4 linked regions of the Homo sapiens genome follow. The protein of the gene in region 3 interacts with the protein of the main gene of each other region in a biochemical or structural test. Each region holds a gene or a part of one and is shown on either strand. Other genes may lie near its edges.

The links.
Region 1: the proteins of LRRK2 (region 3) and PAK6 form a complex in vitro, tested with the Homo sapiens proteins (2 studies listed by BioGRID).
Region 2: of the proteins of LRRK2 (region 3) and MAP2K3, one has a biochemical effect on the other in vitro, tested with the Homo sapiens proteins (2 studies listed by BioGRID).
Region 4: of the proteins of LRRK2 (region 3) and MAP2K7, one has a biochemical effect on the other in vitro, tested with the Homo sapiens proteins (2 studies listed by BioGRID).

The regions. Positions count from the first base shown.
Region 1 is NC_000015.10:40,270,049-40,277,072, reverse strand, and holds part of PAK6 (serine/threonine-protein kinase PAK 6), read right to left. Parts: intron 4,850-7,024; coding exon 4,352-4,849; intron 4,208-4,351; coding exon 4,074-4,207; intron 3,728-4,073; coding exon 3,601-3,727; intron 3,523-3,600; coding exon 3,397-3,522; intron 2,932-3,396; coding exon 2,797-2,931; intron 1,147-2,796; coding exon 979-1,146; 3' UTR 1-978. Other genes in the region: BUB1B-PAK6 (serine/threonine-protein kinase PAK 6), read right to left, coding at 979-1,146, 2,797-2,931, 3,397-3,522, 3,601-3,727, 4,074-4,207, 4,352-4,849. UniProt on the Homo sapiens protein: Serine/threonine protein kinase that plays a role in the regulation of gene transcription. The kinase activity is induced by various effectors including AR or MAP2K6/MAPKK6.
Region 2 is NC_000017.11:21,308,711-21,315,734, forward strand, and holds the end of MAP2K3 (dual specificity mitogen-activated protein kinase kinase 3), read left to right. Parts: intron 1-3,431; coding exon 3,432-3,571; intron 3,572-4,781; coding exon 4,782-4,827; intron 4,828-5,436; coding exon 5,437-5,520; coding exon of another isoform or gene 5,521-5,600; 3' UTR 5,601-6,522; downstream 6,523-7,024. UniProt on the Homo sapiens protein: Dual specificity kinase. Is activated by cytokines and environmental stress in vivo. Catalyzes the concomitant phosphorylation of a threonine and a tyrosine residue in the MAP kinase p38.
Region 3 is NC_000012.12:40,318,988-40,326,011, reverse strand, and holds part of LRRK2 (leucine-rich repeat serine/threonine-protein kinase 2), read right to left. Parts: exon of another isoform or gene 6,037-7,024; intron 6,025-6,036; coding exon 5,837-6,024; intron 4,979-5,836; coding exon 4,824-4,978; intron 3,978-4,823; coding exon 3,831-3,977; intron 3,694-3,830; coding exon 3,502-3,693; intron 2,853-3,501; coding exon 2,706-2,852; intron 1-2,705. UniProt on the Homo sapiens protein: Serine/threonine-protein kinase which phosphorylates a broad range of proteins involved in multiple processes such as neuronal plasticity, innate immunity, autophagy, and vesicle trafficking.
Region 4 is NC_000019.10:7,900,041-7,906,899, reverse strand, and holds the start of MAP2K7 (dual specificity mitogen-activated protein kinase kinase 7), read right to left. Parts: upstream 3,024-6,859; 5' UTR 2,956-3,023; coding exon 2,832-2,955; intron 1,093-2,831; coding exon of another isoform or gene 1,045-1,092; intron 1-1,044. Other genes in the region: volume-regulated anion channel subunit LRRC8E, read right to left, coding at 5,987-6,859. UniProt on the Homo sapiens protein: Dual specificity protein kinase which acts as an essential component of the MAP kinase signal transduction pathway. Essential component of the stress-activated protein kinase/c-Jun N-terminal kinase (SAP/JNK) signaling pathway.

The sequences.
Region 1 (7,024 bases), on a different chromosome or scaffold from region 3:
AACTTGAAAGGTAACACAGTTGCCAATCCTTACATTCCTGTCTCTGGCCCTCACGATGCACAGTACAGGAGAAGCTCAGAAGCCTCCTGAGCTCCCAGGAGTGTTAGACTTAGCATGGACCACTCCACTGGCCAGGTAGACACAGGAGTGGAGAGGTGGAAGCCAGGCCAAGAAAGCAGGTCCCTTCAGGCCAGAACTTAGTGGGAGAGAGGGGCAGCCTTCCTGAAACTGGCTGTGGGTGACCTGGAGGGACCTGGGCTGTCAAGGTGGCTTTCCTCCCCTTACACACACACACACACACACACACACACACACACACACACGATGTTCTCTCCATTCTGTAAAGTGAGAGCACCTTCACCACCGACCCCATTCTTTCTCTTTCACTCAGAAATTGTCCCCTCACTCCCTGCCCCCAGCCATGGCCTGGAGCAGGCCATTCACAGTTCTGGGCGGGGAGGGGCTGTACAGGTGGGACTGCACCTTCAGGACATCAGACGTGAGGGAGGAAGCGGGATTCCGGTCATAAAAACCACCCCGTGGCCCTCTCGAGACTCGAGGTTTGAAGCTGGAGCTGAGAACAGCAGGTATCTGTGGAGACCAGCAGTCTGCCCTCTGCAGTGGCCTAGGACACTAGTGGACAACTGCCTTTAAAAAACCACAGCAGCCTTTTCTACTGTGTTGGCTGCAGAGGCCAGGAACGCTGGCCTCTGCGTTTCTTAGAAATATCCCTGTGCAAATATCAAGGGGTCATCCTGTAGAAAGGGGTCTCCATCTGGGGACTCGGGAGGGAGAGACACTGAGGGGGCAGGTCCGGCCTGGCCCAGTAGGCTGAAGGGCAGAGGGTGGGGCTGGGGCTTCACATTTCAATCTTTGGAGAGAATACTGAGAGGAGGAGGCAGGCAAGTCCTGCCGGCAGGCTGGCTGCCCAGTGTGCCCTGCCTGTGGGCGTAGGTGGCAGGCATACTTGGGGTGGGCTCAGCAGGTGGAGGTCTGCTTTCGGTAGAGCTGGATCAGGGGCACCAGGCACTCAGGTAGCCCTGTCTGCAGCAGGAAGGGGTGGTCTAGGAGCTCCTGGGCTGTGGCTCTCTCTTGGGGGTCCCGCACCAGCATCCGCTCCAGGAAGTCTCGCAGCACTGGGGAGACCTGTAGAGGCAGGGCAGTAAGATGAAGCCACAATTTGCAGTCACTTCGGGGTGACCTGATTGCCTGGACTTATCATTGTTTGAAAGTCATGAATTCGCTGGTTTTTTAACTTCCTGTTCCCTTGTCCCTCCCCACCCCCTCAAGGCTCTCAGCATTCAGATGCTATAGCTCTGTGGAAGGGGCAGAGGATTGGCATCAGTGATCCAGATCTGGCTCTATCCGTGATCTCAGGCAAGTCACAGTTTTCTCTAGGCCTCAGTTTTCTCATCTGTAAAATGGGCTAGTGATAAAGTATGCTTGCCCTGTCTGCCACATAGGGCTTTTGAGATTTTAAAAACAGGTCGCTGGGCGCAGTGGCTCAAGCCTGTAATCCCAGCACTTTGGGAGGCCAAGTTGGGCAGATTACGAGGTCAGGAGTTCGTAGACCAGCCTGACCAACATGGCGAAACCCTGTCTCTACTAAAAATACAAAAATTAGTTGAGCATGGTGGCACGTGCCTGTAATCCCAGCTACTCAGGAGGCTGAGGCAGGAGAATTGCTTGAACCCAGGAGGCGGAGGTTGCAGTGAGCTGAGATCGCACCACTGCATTCCAGCCTGAGCAACAGAGAGAGACTCCATCTCCAAAAAAAAAAAAAAAAAAAAAACCAACAACAACAGAAACAAACAAGTCAAGGATGAGGAAGTACTCTGAAAAATAGAAAATAAAGTGAGACCTGAAAAGGAAGATTTCTTTGTTGCTCTAGGCCTTAAGAGTCTAAAGCAAGGGCTTATCTTGGTTCATTTTGAGCCAGTATCTTGGGATGAGGCTGAGTCTTGGGCAGAAGGCTACATCCTCTGAGGAATTAGCCAACTGGAGATCTTTATATGCTAATTTTGGGGTTAGCGGTGCGGGCTCCAAGGACCAGTTGTCTTGGAAGATGTTTCCTGTTGGTCCTCCCATCCAGCTTTGTGTTGGGGCCACAGAACTCTTGTTTTTTTGCTATTTTAGAGGAGAGGCTTCAGCCCTCTGAGACATTTCTTGTTTTGGCCACCAGATGGCGGTGCCACTTAGCAGCCCCGTGCTGACCTGCCAGCAGGGGGCGTCCACAGTAAGGCCTGCGGGGTTGGGGCCGATTTGGCAAAAAGGGTTACATGTATACACTTCCATGCACTTATACTGGCTTTAAGGGGAACGCTGTGGCTTAGCTGTGTCGGGGTGTGCAACGATGGAGCATGAGCCGACTCGCCGTGATGGACAGGGACATCGAATCATGGTATGGATCTCCCGACACGGGTTAGAAGGGTTTGTGCTCAGTGAAGCTTCTCCGGATCCCTCCCTGGACAGCAGGGATTGCTGGTGTCCTGGCTTTCCCTGCTCATGGGCCCCACTGGGCTTCCGACCAGTGCCTGCCAAGCAGCAACCCTTCTGCCAAGCAGCAACTCTCCTGCCACAGCCGTGGGAGGCGACTTGTCGGAGCGCACATGCGAACTTGTGCGTAGATGCGGCTCCACACCCAGGTGCGGGTTTTGTGTGGGGAAAGAGGAGCCTTTTCCAGGAGCCCAGACCCTGTGGCTTCAGTGGAAGGGAGATGCTGGGAGCCCAGGTTCTGGTCCCCTTGCCTCAGGAGGAATGGGGTCTGCGAGGTCGCACCCTTGTGTGCCAACTGACCTTGTGAGAGTTTTTCAGCTTGGGTGGGGGGCTGTCCCGGAGCCTCTTCATGGCTTGCACTGGGGAGTCACTGAAGTACGGTGGCTCCCCATCTACCATCTCAATCACCATGATGCCCAGAGACCAGATATCCACCTGCAGGAGGAAAATGTCCCTGACCCCATGGCCAGACCCTGGCCCATTGGTAGCTGCGTTCTGGTGGCAGCAGTGGTGGAGGGGGGACAGCTGGCCCCAGCTCTCCTTGGTGGGTCTGTCTCCTTCCTCCCCTGGTCACCTGCCCTGTGGCCAGTTACTGCCTGCATGAGTGACCACTGCCTATAGGGACACAGCTGTCAGTCACTCAGAGAAAGGCCATCATACATAGGAGGCCCGGCCATACCCCATTCTGCCCTTGAGCTGAGGAAAGCACTTGCAGGACTCGTTCCTGGCAGCAAAGTCACTGGGTAAGAGCAGCCCCATCGAAAGGGGGAAGGGTGTTGACTAGGTGGGACTCTGAAAACCAGGGCTGCTTTTGGTGAGCTCACTGGAGGGGCCACAGCAGAAGAGCTGCCAGTTGCCAAGTTGCTTTTGGGAGGTCTGGGGGGTGGAGGGAACGGTTACCTCAGTGGCATACAAAGACCTGGAGATCACTTCAGGAGCCATCCAGTAGGGGGTTCCCACCAGGGACTTCCTCTTAGGGACGTCTTTGCTGATCTGAGCACAGAATCCGAAGTCCGAGAGCTTCACCTGCGGTTGAAAAGGGAGTGAGTGGTGGATCAGGAGGAAGTGGGAGCGTGGCTGTGCCAGGGACAGGATGGGACCTACCCTGCCATCGAGGGTCAGCAGGATGGAGTCACTCTTGATGTCCCGGTGGATGACACCCTGAGCATGCAGGTAGGCCAGGGCCTGCAGCACAGCCTCACACACAGTGGCAATCTGCTCCTCATTCAGCCTGGACAGGAAGGTGGGGCCACCCGATGAAAGAGAACGTTAGCTCTGGCAGGTCGTGGGGTGGCTGAGCAGAGTAGGAGTCCCTGGTGCTAGGCCCCACAGCTCCCAGGCAATCTGTTTGGCAGCACAGTCAGGCCATAGCCCTGGTGAAAACTGGGGCCTGAGCTTTGGCTAGAAGCTATCCTTCTCTTCTCCACTCCCAAGACCCCTGGGTCTCAGTTACCCCAGCAGGCAGGGGAGCCCAGGCATCCCAAGTCTTCTGGGCCACAGGCAGAAGACCACATTGCCCTGGCAGGGCCATGGTGAGGGCAGCCTGCACTCAGGGTCCAGCCCTCCCAGCTGCCCACCTGACTTGGGAGACGATGTCTGTGAGGGCTCCTCCCTGCAGGAACTCCATGAGCACCCACAGCTCCTCGCCCACCAGGTAGCTCTTGTACATCTCCACCACGTTGAAGTGCTGGTAGTCCCGCATGATCACCACCTGGGGGCAGGCGGGGGCCTGAGTGCCAGGCACAGTGCCCAGACGCATGGCCACCCACTGCCCCTGCTCACAGATGTCCAGCCTGGCTGGCTGCTCACTGCCCATCCCCAACGCCCCCGTCTGTGTCCCACCCTGTCCTCCCACCTCGTTGAAGAGCAGCTCCCTGCGCTGCTGCTTCCTGAGGTCCATCATCTTGACGGCCACCTGGCGGCCCGAGTGCTTCTCCCGGGCCAAGCAGACGATGCCGGTGGAGCCCTCGCCAATCTTCACGTAGCTGTCCAGCAGCAGCCGGGGGTCACCCTGGTCCACCACCATCCTGAGCGCAGCCTTGAACTGCTCATGTGTCACAACACCTGTGTCCTCACCAGCCAGGGCACCCTTGGCAACCGTGGGGTCCTGGGGCAGGTACAGGTTGCTGGTGCTGATCTGGGCGTGCCAGGTGCGGGGGGATCCCGCTGGGGAAGACCGGCCTGGAAGCTGGCCTGTGGCCGGGGCTGTGCGGAGGGACTTCTGGGGGCTGCTGGTATCCGAAGTGGTCAGAGGGCTGAAGGTCCCCACCGGCTGGTCCGAGGGCAAGGACTGGGCCTTGGCCACCAGGCTTGGGGGGTTGTCTTTCTGCGGCGGTCGGAAAGAGGAGTTGGGCTGCAGGGACAAAGCAACAGGAAGGGTCAGGGCTGTGGGAGCATTTGGAATAACCTTCCCGGAGGCAGGGGCTGGCCGCCGTGACCTCTGGACTCTGGCAGGGTCAGGCGGGGTATCAGATCAAACTAGGGAGGTGCTCTGAGCAAAGATTTTCAGACAGAGCTGAAGCCCAGTCACAGTCCTGTGCCAGCAGTCCCCCGCAGGGCACCAGGCTGGGCAGGCCCAAGACAGCTCCTTACACTCGCTCTGCTGCACCTGGGAAGACAGAGAAGGCCAGCTCCCCGCCGGGTCCTGCGCTGGGTATTTCTTCCTGGGCGATTGACAGCTAGACCCCAGGGAGGCTGCCGTGAGGCAGACTCTTCCTCTGAGCTCAGAGGCTGCTTGAAGAATCTGGGTCAGAGGCATTCTTCACTCCCAAGGCTCCCCCACCCCAGGACCCATGGGGGCAGAAGAGGCCTGGCAGTGGGGTGGGGAGCAGTGGGCAACTGTGTCTCCACTCCCTGAACCAAGGCAGGGGAGCCACACCTGGGGCCCGATAGCCCTGCCTGTGCCTGCAGCAGGGAGTTTGCAAATCTGTGCTGGGAGGTTATGTCCCTGACAGAGGACCACAGAGGTGTGTCACCATCTGGGGGGTTCTCAGGTGTCTCCCCTGGGCTGGGAATCTGGTGCCAGAGAGATCTGGAGTTAGGAGGGTAGGTCCAGCCAAACCCAAGCCTTGAGGCCAGGGATGGGGAGATGTCTTAAGGACCCCCTAAAGGAGTCCTTCCACTTCCTCCCTGGCATGAAACTCCTGGCTAAGGAGCCCCCGGGAGGGAGGAGAAGGTAGGGGGCCTATCCTCATTGGCTCTGGCAGGGAGGGAGGAAGGGAAGGTGGAGCTGAGGGGCAGCCTGGGCCCCCAGTGAGCCCTGCTCAGGCCCAGCCCTGGAAGCCTGCGAGGCTTCTTGCTTTTCCGAGCCCAAGCCCTTCTGCTCTTTCTGACAGGAAAGGTGCCCGCCCATCTTTGGGTTCTCCCCAAGGAGCGGTGATATGCACCATGACCCCTCCCAGGGATTACGTGTTTTTAAAGGGCACCTGGAGAGGGATGCTTCAGGGGATGCAGAAAAAGCCTTCTAGGAACTTCTCCAAACCCATCATGTAAGCCATTGTCTTAGGTGCCCAGTGGGTCCTGGTCCTGATCCCATAGCTGAAACAACTTACAGGAAATCTCAAGCAGTAAGTTTGGGCTGGGATGCTTGCTCAGGGACCCCAAACCCCAAATCTGGGCCTTGGGCCCCACCAGAGTCTTTTCAGTGTCTTTGGCAACCCTCACTCCCTTCCTTCCCCGACCCCCCGCAGCTTCAGGGCTTCTACTCTCCAGCCAAGTCCCTGGCCTGCTTAGGGTGGAATAGGCACTCCTGCTGGCCGACAGCCATGCTGGGGCAGACTTCTGCCACCCCCACACCTGCCTGCCCACCCGAGTGTGTGCTTGACCTTCACAGGAAAGAAGCTAGCAATCCTCCCAGGACTGCCTGGACTCACTCCATCCCTGATGAGTACATTTGGACAGTAAACATTCTCCCATGTCCTCGCCAGCACCTGACTGTCACCATCCACTGTGACACTGTGACACTGTCACCATCCACTGTGTAGTGGAGCAGTGGGACCCCTGGACTGGGCTGTCAGGACCTGGGGCCCAGCCCTGGGCTGCTCTGCCCTGTGATGAGCCTTAGGCAAGTCATCCTCTCTGAGCCTGTCTCCACTACAATGCAGGGACGTGTGCAGAGATCTGGGGAGCTAGAGAAACCGCAGACTTCCCGCCTCAGAGCCTGATTCGGTGGGAGCCTAGAGCAGAGACTGCATTTGAACAAGGTCCCTGGGTCCTAGGAGGCCCATGGAACATACTTTGAGAAACTCTGCATAAGTGGGCAGTATGATCTTACGGCCTCAGGGAGCCTCTGGGAGGGCTGTGAGGGGGGTGGAGGGCGCATGGCCATGACTGAGGCTGTGATACCAGGTCCTGGGAACAGAGGTTCCATGAGACGTCACCAGGCAGGGACAGGGAGGGAAGTGGGGCAGGGCTCACTGCATCACACAGTCAACCTGTAGAAAGGCTCGGGGCTCTAAGGAAGCTGCCTGCTGGCCTGAGTGTGGACTTAACTCAGAAAACATGCTCTCCAGGCACCCATCCAGGTGGG
Region 2 (7,024 bases), on a different chromosome or scaffold from region 3:
TTGCTGTATTTAGACTGCACAGAACTGGTTGGATATTAGAGACCCTGCTCATGACTACCTCACACATACACACACCCTATGTCCCTTCCCCATCTCCCTGTCTCCCTTCCAGTTGTCCATCCATCATGATTGTTGGGGCCACCATGGCTAGTGGCCTTCTGATATGGCTGGTGGAACTTGGACAAGTGTGTGCTAAGTGTATATTTCAGTTATCAAATATTGCATAGCAAACCACCCTAGAACCTAGTGACCCAAACCAACAGCGGTTTCTTATTTCTCATGTTTCCACCACTGTGGCTGGGCTCAGCTGGATGGCTCTTCTGCTGTACCTGGGATTGGCTGGGGTCATGGCTGGGCTGGGCTGGTCTGGAAGGCCCAAGACGGCCTCACAAACATGGGCCTCCTCTGCCTGGCCTCTCCATGCAACTTACTCACATTGGCCTGCTCCCTGGGCTTCAGAGCATGGCAGTGTCAGCAGAGTTGGAGTTCTTTCATGATGGCTGGCATCTAAAAGGAAGTTCTCTGAAGTGCTAGGCCTGGAACTGGCACAGCATCACTTCTGCCTCATTGTGTTGGTCAGCGAGTCACAGGCCAGCCCAGGTTCAAGGGCAGGGAATGCTCCCGGCTTAATGGAGGATCAGCAGGTGCACACAGCGGGAGGCGGAGGTGGTCACTTTAGGCACAGGTTAGGTTTTTCTTTCACAAGTTACAAACGTAGTGGAAACCTAACATAAAAATAGAGGCACAGTAAGGGGAAAATGACTGTAGTTATTCTACCTAGAGACACCTCTTACCCCGTTTCAGTGCCAACATTGTGCATTATATTATATATATAATATTTTTATTACATATAATAAAATACGTTTTATTAAAATTTAGAGAAATACAAACAATATGTAATGCTTCTCTTTTTTTGTTGTTGAAACAGAGCCTCGCTCTGTCACCCATGCTGGAGCGCGGTGGTGCGATCTCGGCTTACTGCAACCTCCGCCTCCCAGGTTCAAGTGATTCTCCTGCCTCAGGCTCCCGAGTAGCTGGGACTACAGGCGTGCGCCACCATGCCTGGCTAATTTTTGTATTTTTAGTAGAGATGGGGTTTCACCATATTGGCTAGGCAGGTCTCAAACTCGTGATCCACCCACCTTGGCCTTCCAAAGTGCTGGGATTACAGGTGTGAGCCACTGCGCCTGGCCTCGTAATGCTTCTTTTTAAAAAACTTTTTAAAAAAAATTTTGTAGCATTACATGTTGTTCATATTTGTCTCTCTCTCTCTGTTTTTTTTGTTTTTTGTTTTTTTTGTTGTTTTTTTTTTTAGATGTAGTTTTGCTCTTGGTGCCCAGGCTGCAGTGCAGTGGTGCAATCTCGGCTCACCACAACCTCTGCCTCCTAGGTTCAAGTGATTCTCCTGCCTCACTCAATCTCCCAAGTAGCTGGGATTACAGGTGTGCACCACCACATCCAGCTAATTTTGTGTTTTTAGTAGAGATGGGGTTTCTCCATGTTGGTCAGACTGGTCTCGAACCCCCGACCTCAAGTGATCTGCCTGCCTCGGCCTCCCAAAGTGCTTGGATTATAGGTGTGAGCCACCGCACCTGGCCAATTTCTCTAAATTATAATAGACTCCTGTATGTATCCCTTCCAAAGACTCCATAACCATCTGCCACCATTCAGTCACCCTGTCTGCTGATGTGGGTTGTTTCCCTTGTTCCTGCTGTTTTCCTTCCATTTCAAATTCTCAGCCATCCTGGGGGAGCGACTGATGAAACAGAGTCGGGAGAGTCCCCCTGGGTGGGGCTCTGGCCTCGGCCTCCCCCCATCCTGCAAGGGCCCCAGAGCTCTCTTGGCGTTGGCTTTTTCCCACTCACTGCACAAGCCTCAGGATGCCAGTGGGAATCACCCAGAACAGACAGGGGTCATGCCGGGGATGGCCCTTGGCCAGGAGCAAGTGCTGACTGGGTGCTGGCCTGTTAGTGTTGTCGCTGGGGAGTCACAGGGGTGCGACTACGGTCCTGGCTGGGTCTCCGCCCCCATGGTGGGGCCGGCCCCTGGCGCTGGACATTCAGGCTGTTTCTTAGTATTTCCTGGCAGAAAACACCATATGGCACATCTTCGTGTCTGGAGGCTATTTTTGTTGTTTTTCATTTTTTGAGCTCTTTAGAAAAAATAAAGGAGTACGAGGTTGAAGGTTTGGACACTTCTGCTTTTCTAATTATAACTCTCATGGCCGCTGGTCCTTCTCCTGTAGCTCGTATGGGGTACTTGCTCTACATATTGCAGTCAGTGAAAATTCTAAGAGAAAAGCCCCCCAAATCGGTACGGTTTTGTCCTGTGAACACGCATGCACACATGCACACACACGCAGTGGGCCCTGCCTGTGTGGGTGTGTTTGTCTGAGCTGGAAAGGGCCTCTAGCCTGATGGGAGGCACAGTCTCAGCACAGTCCTTAGGGTCTTGTCCGGGCTCCAGTTGCCAGTGCCAAGTGTTTGTGCTGAGGTCTCTTCCGTTCATCATGGTGATGACGGCCGGCAGTGAGGGCCCTTGTGCTGGAGCCTCGGAATTCTCTGTTCTTCCAGGCCGGGGCCAGGGCTGACATAACTTGTTTTTTCCATCCAGTCATCATGATTGGAGCCCAGAGTTGGTTGTAAGCTAGCTAGTCCGTCCCTTCCATGATGACTTCCTGCCAACCACAGGGCTGGGAGCTTGGAGCGAGGACAGAGACCCACCGGCCCGATGTCACCCACAGGAAATCTGGATCCAGCAGGGCACATGTGGCCACACAGGCCACTTGTCTAGGAGGGAAACTGCTGGGGCCCTGCAGAAGATGAGGCTGCAGGCTCACGGGTGCAGAGGCGAAGCAGCCTCATGGTCTCACACTCTGTCCGCGGCCTTGGAGACAGCTGTGTGTGTGTGTGTGTGTGTGTGTGTGTGTGTGTGTGTGTGTGTAGCATTTCCCATGTGCCTCCTCTGTGAAAACAGCCCAAATTAATGACAGCAGATGCTGAAGTCTGAGATGGTCAGATGTTAGGAAGGGGATTGGCTGTGACCACCTGGGACCTGCCCACCTGGCTCATGAGGCTACGGCCCAAAGTTGCCAGCTCCTCAGATTTTTCCAGAGCAGCTGGAACCTGCATTGTTTTGTAAAATCTTCAGAATTCAGGTTTTCTGAAAACCCTATGATGGTCCCACCAGTCCCGGTGTGGGCTGAATCTGCTTCCTGAGCTGGGTCCTGCTGGCTGGGTCGGAGGAGCTAAGAGCTGGCATCCCCGGCTTTCTCGCCTTTGTTCTGCTGGGATGTGGTAGGGAGATCAGCTGTGCAGCTTTGACGCCTGGCTCTGGTACCAGGATGGGTGGGAGCCCCCAACCCTCGCTCCTGGGTGCAGAGCGTGGTTGTATCTGGGGCCGGGGCCTCTGACCCCCTGTCCCCGCTGCAGATTGAGATGGCCATCCTGCGGTTCCCTTACGAGTCCTGGGGGACCCCGTTCCAGCAGCTGAAGCAGGTGGTGGAGGAGCCGTCCCCCCAGCTCCCAGCCGACCGTTTCTCCCCCGAGTTTGTGGACTTCACTGCTCAGTGGTGAGTCTTGGGTGCTGCTGAGCGCCTGCCACTGCCCCTCCCTGGCCAGATCCCTGCACCTTCCTGGGCCCTGTTCCTTTATTCCTTTGGCAAATAAACCCCCAGATGACTTGGCATCCAAATATGTAAGGCAGAAACAGCTGGAGCATGAGGAGCATTTGACAAAACGATGGTCTTGGTGGGAGATTTTAATACAGTTCTTCCAGAAGTGGACAAATCAGATAGACTGAAAAAGAGAACAAAGTATATGGAAAATTTGAACACAAAAAACAAGTTTGCTTTTATTGATATCTAGAACTTTGTACCAAATTAAAGAATGCCCCATAGGAGCCTTATAAAAATCATGTTTGAGAGGCTGGGCACGGTGGCTCACGCCTGTAATCCCAGCACTTTGGGAGGCCGAGGCAGGCGGATCCCGAGGTCAGGAGTTTGAGACCAGCCTGACCAACATGGTGAAACCCCGACTCTACTAAAAATAGGAAAATTAGCCGGGCGTGGTGGCGCATGCCTATAATCCCAGCTACTCAGGAGGCTGAAGCAGGAGAGTCGCTTGAACCCGGGAGCCGGAGGTTGCAGTGAGCCTGAGCCGAGATCATGCCACTGCACTCCAGCATGGGTGACAGAGTGAGACTGTCTCAAAAAAAAAAAAAAATCATGTTTGAGGTTACAGAAGGAATAAGGAAGAGGGCAACTTCTCTGAACTTAATTAAATAGAGCAAGAATTGGGTAAGGAAGAAGCGGCCGGGTGCGGTGGCTCACACCCATGGTCCCCGCACTTTTATTGTTGACCATAATCAGCAACAGAGGAGCCCAGCAGAGTCCCTGGGCAGTCTGACCCCTTTAATTGTGGACTAACTTCTCCCAGAACCCATGATAAGGAGTTTCTCTCCTGATTGAGGATACCAAGTGTGTGACTGTTAGGCAGAGCATTGCAGCCCCATTTTGGTGTTGATATGGAAATTCCTAGGTCACTATGCAGACAAGAAAACCAGGACCCCAGGAGCCAGAGAAACTTGCTGCAAGTCTCTAGTTTGCTCCTATGAATGCCCCTCCACCCTGGAAGAAGCCCTAGACAGTCCTGTCCCTTCTTCCCTGGGTGCACGTGTCCCCTGCTGCTAGGCCTGGGGCAATCCTGGGGTGGTTTGGCTGGCCCTTGGGGGCTGGGCTTCCTCCCTGCCAGCCTGGCCACAGCTGCACTATTCTCTCCTAGCCTGAGGAAGAACCCCGCAGAGCGTATGAGCTACCTGGAGCTGATGGTGAGTATGGGCGGGAGGTGCCTGCCCTGCTCTTCAGGGCTGGCTGGGGCTGGGTGGGGCTCTGGGGAGAGGGCTGCATCCTGCACACAGATGGGTAGCTCCTCTGGCTGGCCCTGTGTTCTCTCCTTTAGGTGCTCGGTCATTTGTTTGCTCCTGCATACCTGGCTCCCTCCTCCCTCCTTCCTGCATGCCAGGCCCTGGGAAGGGTACACAGGCAGTGTGTGACAGAATGGGGCAGAGGGGCCAAGGGTGGCATCAGGGAAGGCTTCATGGAGGAGGTACCATTTGAACTGAGCCTGGAAGGATGAATAAGGGTTATCTCCTGATGGAGAGGCTGTCCCAAGCAGAAGGTCCAGCATGGGCAGAGGCCTGACGTGTGGGGGGAAAGGGAGGTTAGTGTGGCTGGAGAGTGACCACAAGAGAGCTGAGGAGGAGCCACAGATGCCATCTGTGACAGTCATGGAGGGCCTCCTGGGGGTGGAGGTCCTAGAAGGATGAGTAGGATTTTGCCAGTCAGGAGAACACTTGGGCTGGAGCTGGTTGGGGAAGAGTGGCCACCTCTCCCTCCCGCTACCCCTCCATGGTGACTGTGCCTTCTGTCACCCCCAGGAGCACCCCTTCTTCACCTTGCACAAAACCAAGAAGACGGACATTGCTGCCTTCGTGAAGGAGATCCTGGGAGAAGACTCATAGGGGCTGGGCCTCGGACCCCACTCCGGCCCTCCAGAGCCCCACAGCCCCATCTGCGGGGGCAGTGCTCACCCACACCATAAGCTACTGCCATCCTGGCCCAGGGCATCTGGGAGGAACCGAGGGGGCTGCTCCCACCTGGCTCTGTGGCGAGCCATTTGTCCCAAGTGCCAAAGAAGCAGACCATTGGGGCTCCCAGCCAGGCCCTTGTCGGCCCCACCAGTGCCTCTCCCTGCTGCTCCTAGGACCCGTCTCCAGCTGCTGAGATCCTGGACTGAGGGGGCCTGGATGCCCCCTGTGGATGCTGCTGCCCCTGCACAGCAGGCTGCCAGTGCCTGGGTGGATGGGCCACCGCCTTGCCCAGCCTGGATGCCATCCAAGTTGTATATTTTTTTAATCTCTCGACTGAATGGACTTTGCACACTTTGGCCCAGGGTGGCCACACCTCTATCCCGGCTTTGGTGCGGGGTACACAAGAGGGGATGAGTTGTGTGAATACCCCAAGACTCCCATGAGGGAGATGCCATGAGCCGCCCAAGGCCTTCCCCTGGCACTGGCAAACAGGGCCTCTGCGGAGCACACTGGCTCACCCAGTCCTGCCCGCCACCGTTATCGGTGTCATTCACCTTTCGTGTTTTTTTTAATTTATCCTCTGTTGATTTTTTCTTTTGCTTTATGGGTTTGGCTTGTTTTTCTTGCATGGTTTGGAGCTGATCGCTTCTCCCCCACCCCCTAGGGTACCAGCAGGCAGAGCCTTGCCCTCTGCTCAGGCTGGGGTCCAGTGGGAGGGGCCCAAGATCTCTGCTCAGAGAAGTGCAGGGGGAGCCTTCCAGCTCACTCTCCCTGAGGACTGGCTTGACAGGGGCTATGGGTTTGCTTTGGTGTTGTTTTTAAAAAAAGAAAATATATTTTTTTGAAAAAACGACTGCCCATCCCGGGTCCTTTCCCTGATGGGTTGGGGCAGTTACCTGGTTGCTGTTTTAATTAAAAAAAAAAAAAAAAAAAGGACTAAAGGTTGTGTGAGATTGTGTATGACACCTGTGAGCCCCCCTCTTACTTGGGGAAGGTTGTGGCCCTTCAAGGGACCCTTGTCTCTGGGCCAGGGGCAGGGTGTCGTGCTCAGGGGAGGGAGGACTGCCAACCTACCAGGCCCTTCTACATCTGAGGACACAGAGGCCCCCAGAGGGCTGTGATGAGGTAACATCCTGTGATCATCCAGGCACCAGGCCCTGTACTGACACTGGACAGAGCAGCGAACACACAGGTCCAGTCTGCTGGTGGCGGCCACCCATCCCACTGTCCTGAAGTAGTGATGACAGCCAGGTCACAGAGCAGCGAGCACCCTGCACACTTTGCCTGGGCTGGACACGGTGACCTCATGGAGGTTACCTGACCTCCAGTTTACAGATGGGAACAACAGACCCAGAGAGCTGACATCACTTACCCAAAGCCACACAGCTTATAAGACAGAAAAACAGACTTGGGGACAGGTGGTGGGCTCCGGAGA
Region 3 (7,024 bases):
CCTAACCCCTCAAATCACACCACTGAAGTGGAAATACCTGTCTTGGCTCTCCAGAAAAATAAATAGCTCCACAAAGAGGAAATGTACCCTGTGGCTTCTCAGACGCATGAACAGAATCCCATACATTTATATTTTAAAATATATTCACAAAACAAGTCTATTCATATCTATTAAGGTGGGTCGTATTACTCACTGCATAATAGTTACTGCTATCTTGGGAAAAAGAGTTACCAAAAGCCTGAATGCATTGCTGCCCTACAAATAAAAATGGAAAGAGGGAAAATTGAGAGAGGCATAACCTTCTCCAGATTACTCTAATATAAAGATGCTGGAGTCGCTACCTGTAAAATGTTTTTAGAAGGATACACCTAATTTGTTTAAATCACTGGTATTCAACCCCACCCCTTATCTTTGGCAACATCCGGAGACATTTTTGATTGTCACATCTGAGGGAAGGGGAGATACTACTGACATCTAGTGGATAGACAGAGATGCTGCCAAACATTCTGCAGTGCACAGGATGACCCTCGATAAGAAAGAGTTAGTTATCCAAGCCAAAATGGCAACAGCTCAAAGACTGAGAAACTCCTATCTAGACTGCTTTCTGTAAATGAACATGGGATTTATGGATTTATGGGACATGGGTCTAGAGAAGGGAGAGTAATCACAAACATTTTCCTATATGGGTAGCTAAACAGACTTTGCTTTTTTGTTTTTTGTTTTGTTTTGTTTTGAGACGCTCTGTCGCCTAGGCTGGAGTGCAGTGGCACAACCTCGGCTCACTGCAACCTCCGCCTCCCAGGTTCAAGCAATTCTCTGCCTCAGCCTCCCGAGTAGCTGAGATTACAGATGCCCACCACCACACCCAGTTAATTTTTTTGTATTTTTAGTAGAGATGAGGTTTCACCATCTTGGTCAGGCTGGTCTTCAACTCCTGACCTCGTGATACACCCACCTCGGCCTCCCAAAGTGCTGGGATTACAGGAGTGAGCTACTACACCTGGCCAACTAAACAGACTTTGTAAATGACGTTTCCACATACACTACTCAAAACGTGTCCATTCATCTGAAACACATTTTAATGCAGGAAAAAGAAATATTTTAGGGATCTGTGTCTGACAGTTTGGGATTTCTTCAGAGGAAGGATGCACCATGTCTGGTACTTTCCTGTATACCTTGAAGTCTGGGGTTAAGATGTAGGATTCAGCAAGGACAATTCAGCATTTTATGTTAACCCACTATTACTAATACATTAACTTCCTGAGTTCCAAAGCATTTAAATTCAACCTAAACTTCCCAATCAATGCCAATAAGAGGGGTATAAAGGAGTTTATTTAGCTTTAAATATCATGTCTCAAATTTTGGACAACTTTTTGCTAATAATATTATGTCCTGACTGACAGATCTTAGGCATTATTTCTGGGGTAATTTGATTAAAATTAAATGTATACACACAACAACAACAAAAACTAAACAAAGTAAGGTCAAAATTGTCTTCAAATGCTTTATATTAAATCAATCTAATGCATTTCATAGTTGTCCCAATGACTCTCAGGAATGTTTAAAACTTGAGTATGTCAGCCTACAGTTAATAATAACATACTGTATACTTGTAAATTGCTATGAGAGTAGATTTTAATAGTTCTCACCACATAAATATTTGAGATAATGTATATGTTAAATAGCTAAACTTCTCCATTCCACAACATATACATATATCAAAACATCATGTTGTACACCATAAATATATACAATTTTTACTTGTCAATTAAAAAAATTTGTACAAAGTATATCTTTTTTTAAAAATGATAACCGAGGAGCCAGACAGATCACAGCATCGCAGGTCTTGTAAAGACATTAGCTTTTATTCTGAGAGACATGAGAAACCACACATGTAATCTACAGAATGACATACAGTAACATATGTTGACTGTTTCTTTCCCAAAGTAGTTATAATGCATACACTTTTCATCTTCTGAAGTGTATGAGCATGTTTTAAAAACATCTTTTAGGCCCAAAAATCCATGTGCAGGAAGTCAAGATACAAATGAGAATATTGAAACATGGTTACCATGACTTCACCTTTTCTCAATGAGCACCTAAACATGCTACATGAATTCAATGATTTCCATCATACTCTACTGAAAATCACTGATTGAATTCACGGAACCAAGAAATGTAAATTGTTCAGCATATCAAAAAAAAAAAAAAAAGTATTTGAGTATGTCACCATGTAACACTTTTGACTTTAATTTCAAGGCTTTTAATGAATATTTCTATGAGAATTCAGCATTGTCACACTGAGTCATAAAACCCCTGCTATGGCTACACTGAGGTGTGCTTCCTTTACCTATTCTGTCATTTTATAAAATATGGCTGCTTCACTTAACTCACCTGAAAACTGTCTTATTTGCCTCCCATATCCCTGGCAATTAAGGCAAATACAAAGATATATTTCATAAATATTTCTGCTTCCATGATAATCTCATCCTCATCTTGATCCTAGTCTACATGATTATGTGCAAAACAAATTCCAGATCTGTAATATTATATTCCTTTAAAATATATCATTCCAAATACAAAAATTATAACAAATATATGAAGACAGTAAAATCTATGACAATATAATTATGAAATCTATTTTCTAAATTATAAGGAGAAAATTACATCCTAATTTTTATTCTCAAATTAACAAAAAGAATTACCTAGGAGAAACTCTGGAGCTTGTTCAAATTCCAACTCATCATTATTCAACATAATATTTCTAGGCAGGTCAGCCAAAATCAAGTCAGGGGCAATCTGAGATATTGGAATGGTGAGCCTTGGTTGATCTGGATTTACTAAGAGATCTCCTGAGAAGTAATAAAACATTTTTTAAATAAAAACAACATTTAAGGAGATACATAAATTTGTGGTTTTGATGTGAAAAAATAATGGAATATTTTCTATAATTTCTAATCCCTCCCTTTCTAACCAATCCTATATTTCTCTAGGAAATTTGAGAACATTTTAAAGATTCACTTAGTATCTATCTACTTGGAATTTTAAAAACTTATTCCTACGTTCACTTGTAGAATTCTGAACTGCTGCAGACTACCAGACATCTGACTAGAAAGTTATCTACTCTCTGCTTTTGCCACATTCATGAAGCTGCAGCTGTTATTATATGGCAGACATGTTGGTAAATTAGGTCCATGTATTGTCTATTTGAATCTTTATAACAGTTCTATGAGATAGATGTGGTTGGTATTCCGGTTTCACAGATGAGGTTATGTTGCTCAATAAGCCAGCATTCAAACCCTCAAATCAACATTTTCTGAATCTAGAATACAAGATTTTATTGGTAATAAATATAATTCAGTTTTCTGAACTGTCCCTATAATTGAATATACTATTTTTCAACTCATCCCTTATGGATAAGAATATTTACATTTATTAAAAGTCACTTCATAAGTATTGAAGGATCACTTAAAAGCATTTGTAAGTTGTATCAAAACATACCTTCCTCTGCTTTCTTCATCAAGTCATCAAGTAAGATTTTTTGATGTTCTTCACCATCATTAAAACTATATAATGCCCATTTCTTCAACAGAGTTTCTCCTTCACCACAAATATCAATCTCCAGCAACCCAGGAAACCATTCTTCCATGAGAGAATCAATGTGGTCCACAACTTGGCCCAAAAGAATACAGCCTACATGATTCAAAACAGAGCTCAACACCTTGTCTAAACCTCATACTGTCGCAAAGCTTTAAGGTAAAGTTTTTTTTTTTTTTAAGTTTAAATTTCTTTAGTGTTGCAATTGAAAACATTCAAATTGATTTCCTTACCTTTTCTACAAGAAGGAACTGTAATTTTTAAGAAACTCTCTGGATGATTGTCTAAGACTTCAGATCCTACCAGACAATAAGCTTCAGGAGACCAATTTAAGTAAATGCCTTGTCGCCAATACATTCTGTTTGGGCGAAGTGCTCGTTCTAAAAAATGGAGCCATTAATTATTAACTGCTTCCTAAGTTAAAGGGAAAAAATCTACTGCACACAACACAAGTGATTGTAATACAGATCTATTCATTTTGAAATAAAGTATTGGGTTGTTACTGATATGAGTCCTCATCCATATCTATTAAATATTTTATCCACAACTTTACAATAAAAAGAGTTAAATCCCCTGCACATTAAGATCCATTTCAGGTTGATGCTGTTAAGCAGTTTAATATGCTCGACAGATGAAGAAAGAAAATCATAAATAAATCCTCATAATTTTTAAAAAGAAGTTTTTGATCATGCTAAACGCAAAACTTTCTGAACTTTTTAATGCAATGTAACTACCTATATGTTGATTAATTCCAATCAAGGTAAGGTTTATTTTGGAAACCAGTAACACCTGTGTAAAGCTAATTTTAATCCCCAAAATGATATTTTCCCTTTGGAGTACCAAAATGTCTCTATTTATTTTAGAAGAAAGAGTTAGCATTATAAACACCGGATTTGCTCTTTTTTTGTAAATGTCTTAGTGGCTGTGCAACAGAAAAGAGATAATTACAGTCCCTACAATGTAATCACAGTCAAGATCTGAGTGAGCACCTAAGGAATTTTCTTCCTGACAAATTAGATGAGGTTATATGTGCTTGTGTGTCTTTAGATTGCCTACTCCAAGGTTTTATGAGCTTATTTTCTAATTCTTCAGCTGCCTTCCAAACAAGTAAACTCTGAGAAAATGGCATATTACTTTTCATATGCCATCTCCCTAATTTCTCTAAAAATTAATAAGTCTAAATTAATAGTCTCTAAAAATCTAATAAGTCTTCATTAGATACTTACCTCTCCCTGAAAGCATGTAAGGTGAAATCTCAAGTAATCGATTGATTAATCTTGACCAAAATCCCATTGGAAAATAAGGCATTTCATATAGTCGGATGATAATTTCAGAGTTCTCACAATGGGGAAGCTCTATCACAGGCCTGTGGTCAGACAAACTAAAGGCAAAAGGACACTATGGTTATACAGCCTCACAAAACACCCAACCTTGTTGAGCAAATGATTTTACTGCTTAAAGTCAATGAAGGTAATCATTCCAAACAATTGTAATCTTTTTGTAACATTGTTTCACTACATATTTTTCCTACACCAAAAATTCAGTGGTCAATAACCAATTCAAATGCATGCTCAGATGTAGATGCATGAAATATTTTCGGTAATCCCTGTGCACTAATACATAAATTATTACAATTAGTTATGCATAGACAAATGTAATCTTATATAAATCCTGAAAAATACATGTCCTAGAAAAAAAGTGTATATTTATTTTTAAAATTGGCTGCATCCATCAATCAATGTAATTTGCACATTTCAACATCATATTACTTTATAAATTTCCCAGTTGCTTAGAGCAGTAGGAAAAATTTCCATAGTATAGGCTAAAACATAGGCATCCATTGTGATGCCATAAATGCTTTTAAAATTCTGTTGAAAACTCACTATCTTCTCAGAACTTGCTTAATAAACTCTCTCAGTGTTGTTTAAGAACACACACATACACAAACACAGACACACACACACATTAATCTCCACTATTTACCTTTCTTAAATAATTTCAACAGTGATAAGCCAACTAGTAACTATACACATAAAGTAAGTGATTTACTATATTGTTAAAGTGTCAGATGCAATGTTTTATTCCAAAATAAATGATACATGTCAGTAGGAGGTTTACACTAGAAGCAAAATATATTTATTTATTTAATACATCTATTATAGACTACAGTTAGTTTGACAATTAAAAGAATAGATAGTGAATTTCCATGTAGCAATTAATTTTTTAAGGTTTTCTTTACCTGCTTGGAACCAGCAAATATTCTTCTCCTATTGGCAAAGCAATCTGGAATTTTTCTAGGAGCTTAAAATACTGTGACATGTAGTTCTTTGGAAATTTCCTTTTTTTTGAAAGAAATTTTTCCACATCTCTACGCGAAATAATGCCCTTAGGGTGTTTTGGACAACCTTCCACTTTCACTGTCAAAATCTGAAAGATTCGAGTCATAAATAATCACTAAAATTTATTTTCTGAAATGTTGCAAATTTAAAGCATTTTATGTCTCTTTGCTCAGTGAAAGTAGTCAGAAAGATTTTAGTGTTTTCAAGTGCAACACAGTACCTAATTTCTCTAGCAACCATGTGGCCTAGAAGCCCAGAGGGGCATTCACTCTCAAAAAAAAAAAAAAAATTGTTAAATTAAGGGAGTTAATTCGGATAGGAAATCATTGAACTTCACTGAAACAATGAACATCAGTATTTCCCTAGCTACAATGGAAAGATCAATCCAATACCTCACATCTGTTTTGCAGTCTCATCAATAATATATTCCCAGGAAAATTATCTTCCAGACAGTTATCAATACAGGTTTGAAATAGAAATATTACTTCACATTTATATACTAGGAGAGGACTTCCATGAATAGGAAGACAGACTGTGTAGCAGAGTTTCATGATTCTCAAAGTAACTACTGCATTTTGATGGATTCTACTTGCAGTGTCTGGGTCAGTAGGTCTGGGTTGAGGCCTGAGAATCGGCTTTTTTAAAGAGCAACCCCGATGTTTCTAACACAGAGATCACACTTTGAGCTTTGATCCTTGTCATGGCAGTTAAAAATCAGTCAGAACCCAGATTCAAATCCAGGCTCTACTACTAGCTCTGTAACCTTGGGAAAGGTATTTGATTTCTTTACTGCACAGCTTTCTTCTCTATAAAATGAGATAATAAAAGTGACTGTCTTAGATTGCCCTGAGAATGAAATAACACATGTAAAGTACGCAAAGTACATATGACAAATTTTAGCATATTTATCTATATATTCCAATTTATTTTGCTTTGTCAAATTCACTTTAAAAAGAGGTTTGTATTTAATTTTCTTTGGGAGATCTATAATGTTTAAGGAATACTTAAACAGAAGCAAACATTATTTATGCTATCATGTAGTTGAGTGAAATACCAGGTTATAAAGTCCTTAGGCCCAAGGACTTGTC
Region 4 (6,859 bases), on a different chromosome or scaffold from region 3:
ACAGGTATGTGCCACCATGCCCGGCTAATTTTGTATTTTTAGTGGAGACGGGGTTTCTCTATGTTGGTCAGGGTGGTCTCGAACTCCCGACCTCAGGTGAGCCACCCGCCTCGGTCTCCCAAAGTGCTGGAATTACAGGTGTGAGTCACTGTGCCTGGCCTAATCTCTAGTATTTTTAATGCAGACAGGGTTTCACCATGTTGGCCAGGCTGGTCTCGAACTCCTGACCTCAAGTGATCCACCCTCCTTGGCCTCCCAAAGTACTGAAATTACAGGCATGAGCCACTGCGCCTGGCCCAGTTTTTAAATTTTTGAGACAGGATCTCGCTGTCACCCAGGCTGGGGTGCAGTGGTGTGATCATGGCTCCCTGTAGCCTCAACCTCCCCGAGTGTTGGGATCACAGGTGTGAGCCACCGTGCCTGGCCTCCCCAGAGGCTTTGTTCAATTCCCACCGTCTCCAGAGGTTCCCCCAGGCTGGCCCCCTGCAGGGCCGCTCACCCAGCTAGAATGTTCTCTCTGGTGGGAATGTGCTCCTTGTCCAGTGGGCCCCCCTATTGCAGCCCCCCGCTACAGAGGAGAGGGGCTCCATCTGTTCTATTCACTGCTGTGTCCCTGGCGCCCAGGGCTGGTATGGAACCCGGGGGGTGCTATGTGTTCACCTAGTTGTTGAGAGAGATCCATAGGCACAGGCCACCCACCCACCAGGCCCAACTTTCTCGTTCTCTCAGTTACACACACACAGGCGTGCACCCCCCCCACCCCCGGAGGCCACAGACTCCCATTCAGTGGGGGAGCCCACCTCCTCCTCCAGGGAGTCCAAAGTGGAGCTGGGAGTAAGGGAGGGGGAGGAGGAGGGAGGACGCAGAGGAGGCTGGGCTGGGCTGACCGCTGCTTGAGTGGAGTGAGAGAGAAAGTGAGAGTGAGGGGAAGGGACATGGGGACACACACAGAGCATGGGGGCTGGGGGACGCCATTCTGCGGCCGGGGCAGCGGTTAGGTCAATGGTGCAGATGTCCAAGCAGCGATGATAAAAAGGCTGGTACCTGCTCGTTGGGACGGGGCAGGAGCAGGGCTTAGAGTGATCACAATAACTGGATGGGGAAAAGGAAGAAAAAAACAACACCACGATAAATCACAACAGAAACGACTGATTCGTCCAAAAGAAAAGAAATCAAATCATAAACGAGGAGGAGGGGGAGGCACCGAACTGCAGAGATGGCTAGGAACCGACAGAGATGGGGAGGGCGGGGAGGATGGGATGGAGTTGACACAGACAGAGACGCCTGGAGGGGACTCCTCGGGGGCCTGCCTGCCACCGGCCTCCTAGCTCTGCATGGGAACGGCCACCCCTGAAGGCACCCGGGATCCTGGACTCAACCCTGTCTCATCCACTCAGGGGCCAGGGAGGGCGGCCCCCAGGGGCTAGCAGGGACCCGTGTCTTGGCTGGGCTTCTTGTCTCAGGCAGTGTCCTGCACCAGAATCCCCACCTCCATGATTTCTCTGGACCCCCAAGAGACTCCCCAAGGAGGAACCCACGCTGACTCAGGTCAGGAGAGGGAGGGACAGGAGGGTGTCAGGCTGTGAAGGTCAGGCTGGGTGACCAGGGAATGGGTGGGGTGCCCAGATACGGGGGTACCTTTCTCGCCTGCCATAATGACTCCATAGAGAGAACTAAATAAACTACGAAGGTCACATCAGAGGAGACAAGAGAGAATTTTACTGGGTCAAGAAAGACACAAAAAGGATCATGGGTCAGGGGTGGTGTTCACAGGGTTTGAAAATCTAATTTCCTCCAGCCCAGAGGATTTAGAGACCAGGATCTTGGGGAAAAAGCCGGGAGACTAGATATGGTCAGTGTTCCCAGGCCAGGTGTGTGTGAAGCGAGAGGTACTGATCTAGGATGACAAGGTGTCAGGGAGGTAGGTACCGAGGTGGTGGGACTGATCAGAAAGCAGGTGGATGTATGCTGGGGCGCGGCGGGAGCAGGCCTAGAGTCACACTGGCCCCAGGTGTCCCCAGGTCAGGTGGGTGTGGGTGTGAAGGGAAGGGGAGCCATCACTTGAACACAGGTGACAAAGTCACCGGGCTGGCTGGGGGTCGATGTGCATTTCTGGAGGTCAGACACCACACGCTCACCAAGATGGTGGCAGTGAAACTGGTCACAGGGATTTGCGGGGCCTGGTGTATGTGGGAGGGGGTCTGCTGAGCCCAATGCCATGGTCACTGTCGCCAAGAGGGGGAGAAGGGACCCCCTCCCGTCCCCCCACCTCAGACACGGTCACAGGGAGAGCGAGAGGGAGAATCCTCGGGTCAGAAGAGATGGGGAGGGGCTCTATGTGGTCAAGTAACCTCAGGTGTCCCCGAGCCAGGCGTGCGCGTGTGCGTAGATCGTCGCTGCACGGGGCTGACAAGCCCCCAGGCCGGGGGAGGGGGGCGCCAGACAGTCCCTGAGATGACGAGAGTGGTAGCATCAGGTCAACAGGGACGTGTCTGTGTTTTCGGGGCGACCTGGATGTGGTCACTGTCGCGTGGAGTCGGGGAAGCCCGACCCAGAGGATCACGGCGATGGGGGCGGGTCATCAGCTGGGGGCCTCGCCTGGGTCCGGGAACTGGGCTCCCAAGCCCTGAGGGTGCGAACCCCCCGGAGCTCGCCGGCTCCACGCCCCCCGGGTCACCGTGACCCTCGCCCCGCGAGCCCGCAGCGGGGGGGGCGGAGAGGAGAGCGAGCGCCCCGGAAGCGGGGGCGGGGCCTTGTGGTGGGGGCGGGGCCTCCCGCGGCGCGCGCCCCGCCCCGCCCGCCCGCCCCCTCCCCCACGCCGCCGTGCTTACTGGGCCTGGGCCGCTGGGGGCTGATATCCAGGTTGAGGTCGATCCTCCGCCGGGCCTCCCGGTTCTCCTGCTTCAGCTTTGCTTCCAGGCGGGACAGCTTCTGTTCCAGGGAGGACGCCGCCATCTTCCCCGCCGCCACCGCCGCCGCGCACCGCCCGGCCGCCCGTCAGTCCGGCAGACAAACACCGCACTGCGCCTGCGCCCGGATGACCCCGTCGAGCCGCCGTCTCGCCCCGCACCGCGCATGCCCGCGGCGCGCACCCGCCCTTCTCCGCGTGCGAACCTCCGCGCGTGCGTGCTTCGGCTCAGCCCGAAGGATGACGCCACCTAGAGCTCGAGGCAGGCAACGTGCAACCCCCGCCTTCGTCGCCACCACCACCGTAGTGCGCATGCGCCAATTCCCGATCGCTCCTGAGAGAGGCGCTGCGAGGAAACACCATTCTTCTGAGGACGGTGGGCGGGGAAAACGGCGCGCATGCTTAGCGAGGCGAAGCCGTGTTCGCCCGCGTGGCTTTTGCGCATGCGCATTCCTGGAACCTCGTTCCCAAAGCGGCAGTCGATCCCTGGTCTCCACGGCGGTGCAGCCTCAGCCTCCTCGCTTTTCACGGTCGGCTTGGGCGTCCCTTCGGAATGCCTTCCTCACTGATGGTGCTTTATTAGGATTCCTCTTGTGCTTAATTACCTCCTAGCCTCCTGCTGGCAGCGGGGTGCCGCCTCCTCACCGTAATTAGGCTCCGTCGAGAGCCCTTTCCCTTCTTGCCAGCCCCAGCAGGCTCAGAGTTGGCCGAAGCCAGGGGGGAGGGGACGGCCATGGGAACCCAGCGGTGTGACCCCTGCCCTCGGCGACGGGGCCAAGGTCAAGGCCAGAGTTGTTGGCCAGACCCACATAGAACCTCAAGACACCCCCCTTATCTCTCTCGCACCCGGAACGTGAGCCCAGCGCCTGGACGTGGAGAATTCCTATCTGAGGAGGGGCGCTGGGGTTAGGTGCCAGTGCTTGGGCCCCCGGCAGCCTAAACCACTCCTTTAAGTGGTCCGACGGGTGCTGGGGAAATGTCCCATCTGGAACCCAGGGATCCCCCCAAGAGCGGCTTCCCTCTGCTCTTAGATGCGAGAAGGAAGTTCTGATTTTGCGGACACCCGGGAGGTGGCCAGGGCCAGGCAGACTCTGCCAAGTGCCCTTCCAGCTTCTGGTCCAACGAGGGAACACTTTGGGATGAGAGTTACCGGCTTGTCGGAACTCCTCTGGTGACGATTTGTGGGTGGAGCACACACAAGTGTAGAGTTATAGCTGAGGTCTTTACCTTTCCGTCTTCCAGGCAGCCTTCTGTGCCTCTGCTCTGAGAACATGAGACTCATCCTTGATTCTGGCACACGGGTGTTACTTGGTCACATGAAATAAAAGGTTACGGGCATGGTGGTTCACGCCTGTAATCCCAGCACTTTGGGAGGCCGAGGCGGATGGATCACGAAGTCAGGAGAGGACCAGCCTGGCCAAGATGGTGAAACCCCGTGTCTACTAGAAATACGAAAATTAGCCGGGCATGGTGGCAGGCGCCTGTAATTCCAGCTACTTGGGAGGCTGAGGCAGAGAATTGCTTGAACCCAGGAGGCGGAGGTTGCAGTGAGCCAAGATTGCGCCACTGCACTCCAGCCTGGGTGACAGAGCCAGACTCCGTCTCAAAAAAAAAAAAAAGAAAGAAAAACAGGGTCTTGTTCTGTTGCTCAGGCTGGAGTGGAGTGGTGTGATCACAGCTCACTGCAGCCTCAACCTCCTGGGTCCTGGGCTCAAGCAATCCTCCTGCCTCTGCTTGCCTAGTAGCTGGGACCTCAGGCACACATCAGCACACCTGGCCAACTTTTTTTTGTATGTTTTTGTAGAGATGAGATCTCACTATGTTGCCCAGTTTGGTCTCAAGCTCTTGAGCTCAAGCGATCCTCCCACCTGAGCCTCCCAAAGCGCTGGGATTACAAGCATGAGCCACTATGTCTGGCCCTAATGGACGGTGTTAGACAATGACAGGAGTGCACATAAGAGATCAAAACTAGAACTTGCATAATTAGTATTATTTATTAAGCACCCAGAGAACAGTCAAGACCAAAGTCCCTGCTTGTCCTTGGAAAAATGTCACCTCTATAGCAGGTGTCCTAACCCTGCAGTCCACCCACCTTAGGAAGTCCTTGAATAGCTCTCTGGGGGAAATCTATCAGCTGCCTGAAGAGCTTTGTGTGTATTTGTACACCAGCATTTTCCTGAGGAAGGAGGTGCCTGGCTTCATCAGTTTCTCAAAGGGTCTAGGACCTCAAAAGGGATCAGAATCTAGATATTTGGATACCCTATTTTTTTTTTTTTTGGCAGAGGTGGGGTCTCGCTATGTTACCCAGGCTGATCTCGAACTCCTGAGCTCAACCATCCTCCTGCATTGGCCTCTCAAACAGCTGGGATTATAGTCATGAGCCACAGCGCCCGGCCCTGATACCTTTACGTCAGCATTTCCCAACATACTGTCTCAGGGCCACTTACCTGCACCAGAACTACCTGGAATATTTAGGAACAGACTCCTGGCCCCCAACCAAACCTCCTGAGTCAGTGTTTCAGGGGAGGGGACTGGGATATTTTGTTTTGCACCGACTCCCTAGGTGATTTTGATGCTTAGCCAAATGAGAACCATTGTTCGGAGCTAACATATAACACAGCAAACAACTGTGTCTGTGTCCTCTCCTTGGGAGAGAACTCCAGAAGTAAGTTGCTTTGTTGCATGGGGAGGGGGAGTGTTGGAAATCCCACTGGGATGTGTCGTTTCCCCCATATGTGGCACTAATTGAGCTGGAATATCCAGGGAGAGGCAGCAGTTCTAGGGATGGGAGCAAGGCCAGCCAGCCTGCCAGAGACACAGGTGTGGTTTTGGTCGGAGAATGCCATGACTGAGTTAATCCCTCCATACCAGGTTCCACCCCAGCTCCACAACATCCTGTCTGTCTCCCCAGACAAACCAGCCCAGATCCTCCTGGGCCCCAGAAAGATGACACAGCTGCCCCCGCCCCCCCCATCTCCTGGCCTGGACCCACTTGGCTTCCTATCTTGGAAGACAATGGTTGAGATTCCAGGGCAGAAGCATTTTTAAGGCTCTACCTAAAACGGCCCCACCCCAGCTTCATTCCTCCTCCATCTTGTCCCGCACTTCTGCCGGCAGACCCTGGTAAAGCGTGTCTTCCACCAGGAGCCCCGCCTTCTTGAGCCCCCCACAGTTGCCAAGTTCTTCTGGCAGCGCCTCTAAGCGGTTGCCTTTGAGCTCCAGGCGGCTGAGGGCTCTGAGGGCACCCACGTGGGGCGAGAGCTGGCTCAGCTGGTTGTCGCCCAGAAGCAACGTCCGCAGCTTGCGGCAGAAGAAGAGCTCTTCGGGCAGGGCCTCCAGGGCATTGTAGGAGAGGGCCAGGTGCTGTAGGTTCTGCAGGAGGCCCACCTCGGGTGGCAGGGAGTGTAGCCCATTGTGGGACACATCCAGCAGACGGAGGCCTGAGCACAGGCCGAGCTGGGAGGGCAGGGTCTCCAGCTTGTTGTAGCTGAGGTAGAGCTGCTCCAGGCTCCTGAGCTTCCGCACGTGCTCAGGGACGTAGGCGATCTGGTTGTGCCACAGCCTGAGCGTGACCAGCTTCCGGCAGTGCTGGAAGCTGAGGATTTCCTCGATGGAGCGCAGGTGGTTGTCCTTGAGGTCAAGTTCCTGCAGCGCACCCAGGCTGAACACTGCATGGGGGATGCGCTCCAGCCCGCAGGCCACCAGCTCCAGCTCCCGCAATGCCGCCAGCTTCTTGAGGCTGTTCAGGGCAACCAGACGGGCCCCATCGTTGTGCAGGCTGAGCCTCTGCAGGTGGCCAGCAACGTCGGTCACACTGGCTGGCACCTTCCCGGCGTTGCTCCGGAGGGACAACACCTTGAGCTGCTTCAGCTCCCGGAGGCTCTCCAGGGTGGCTGCCCGAGCTAGCTCCTGGGGGAAAAGCCCCTCCAGGTGCAGCTCCTCCAAGCCCCG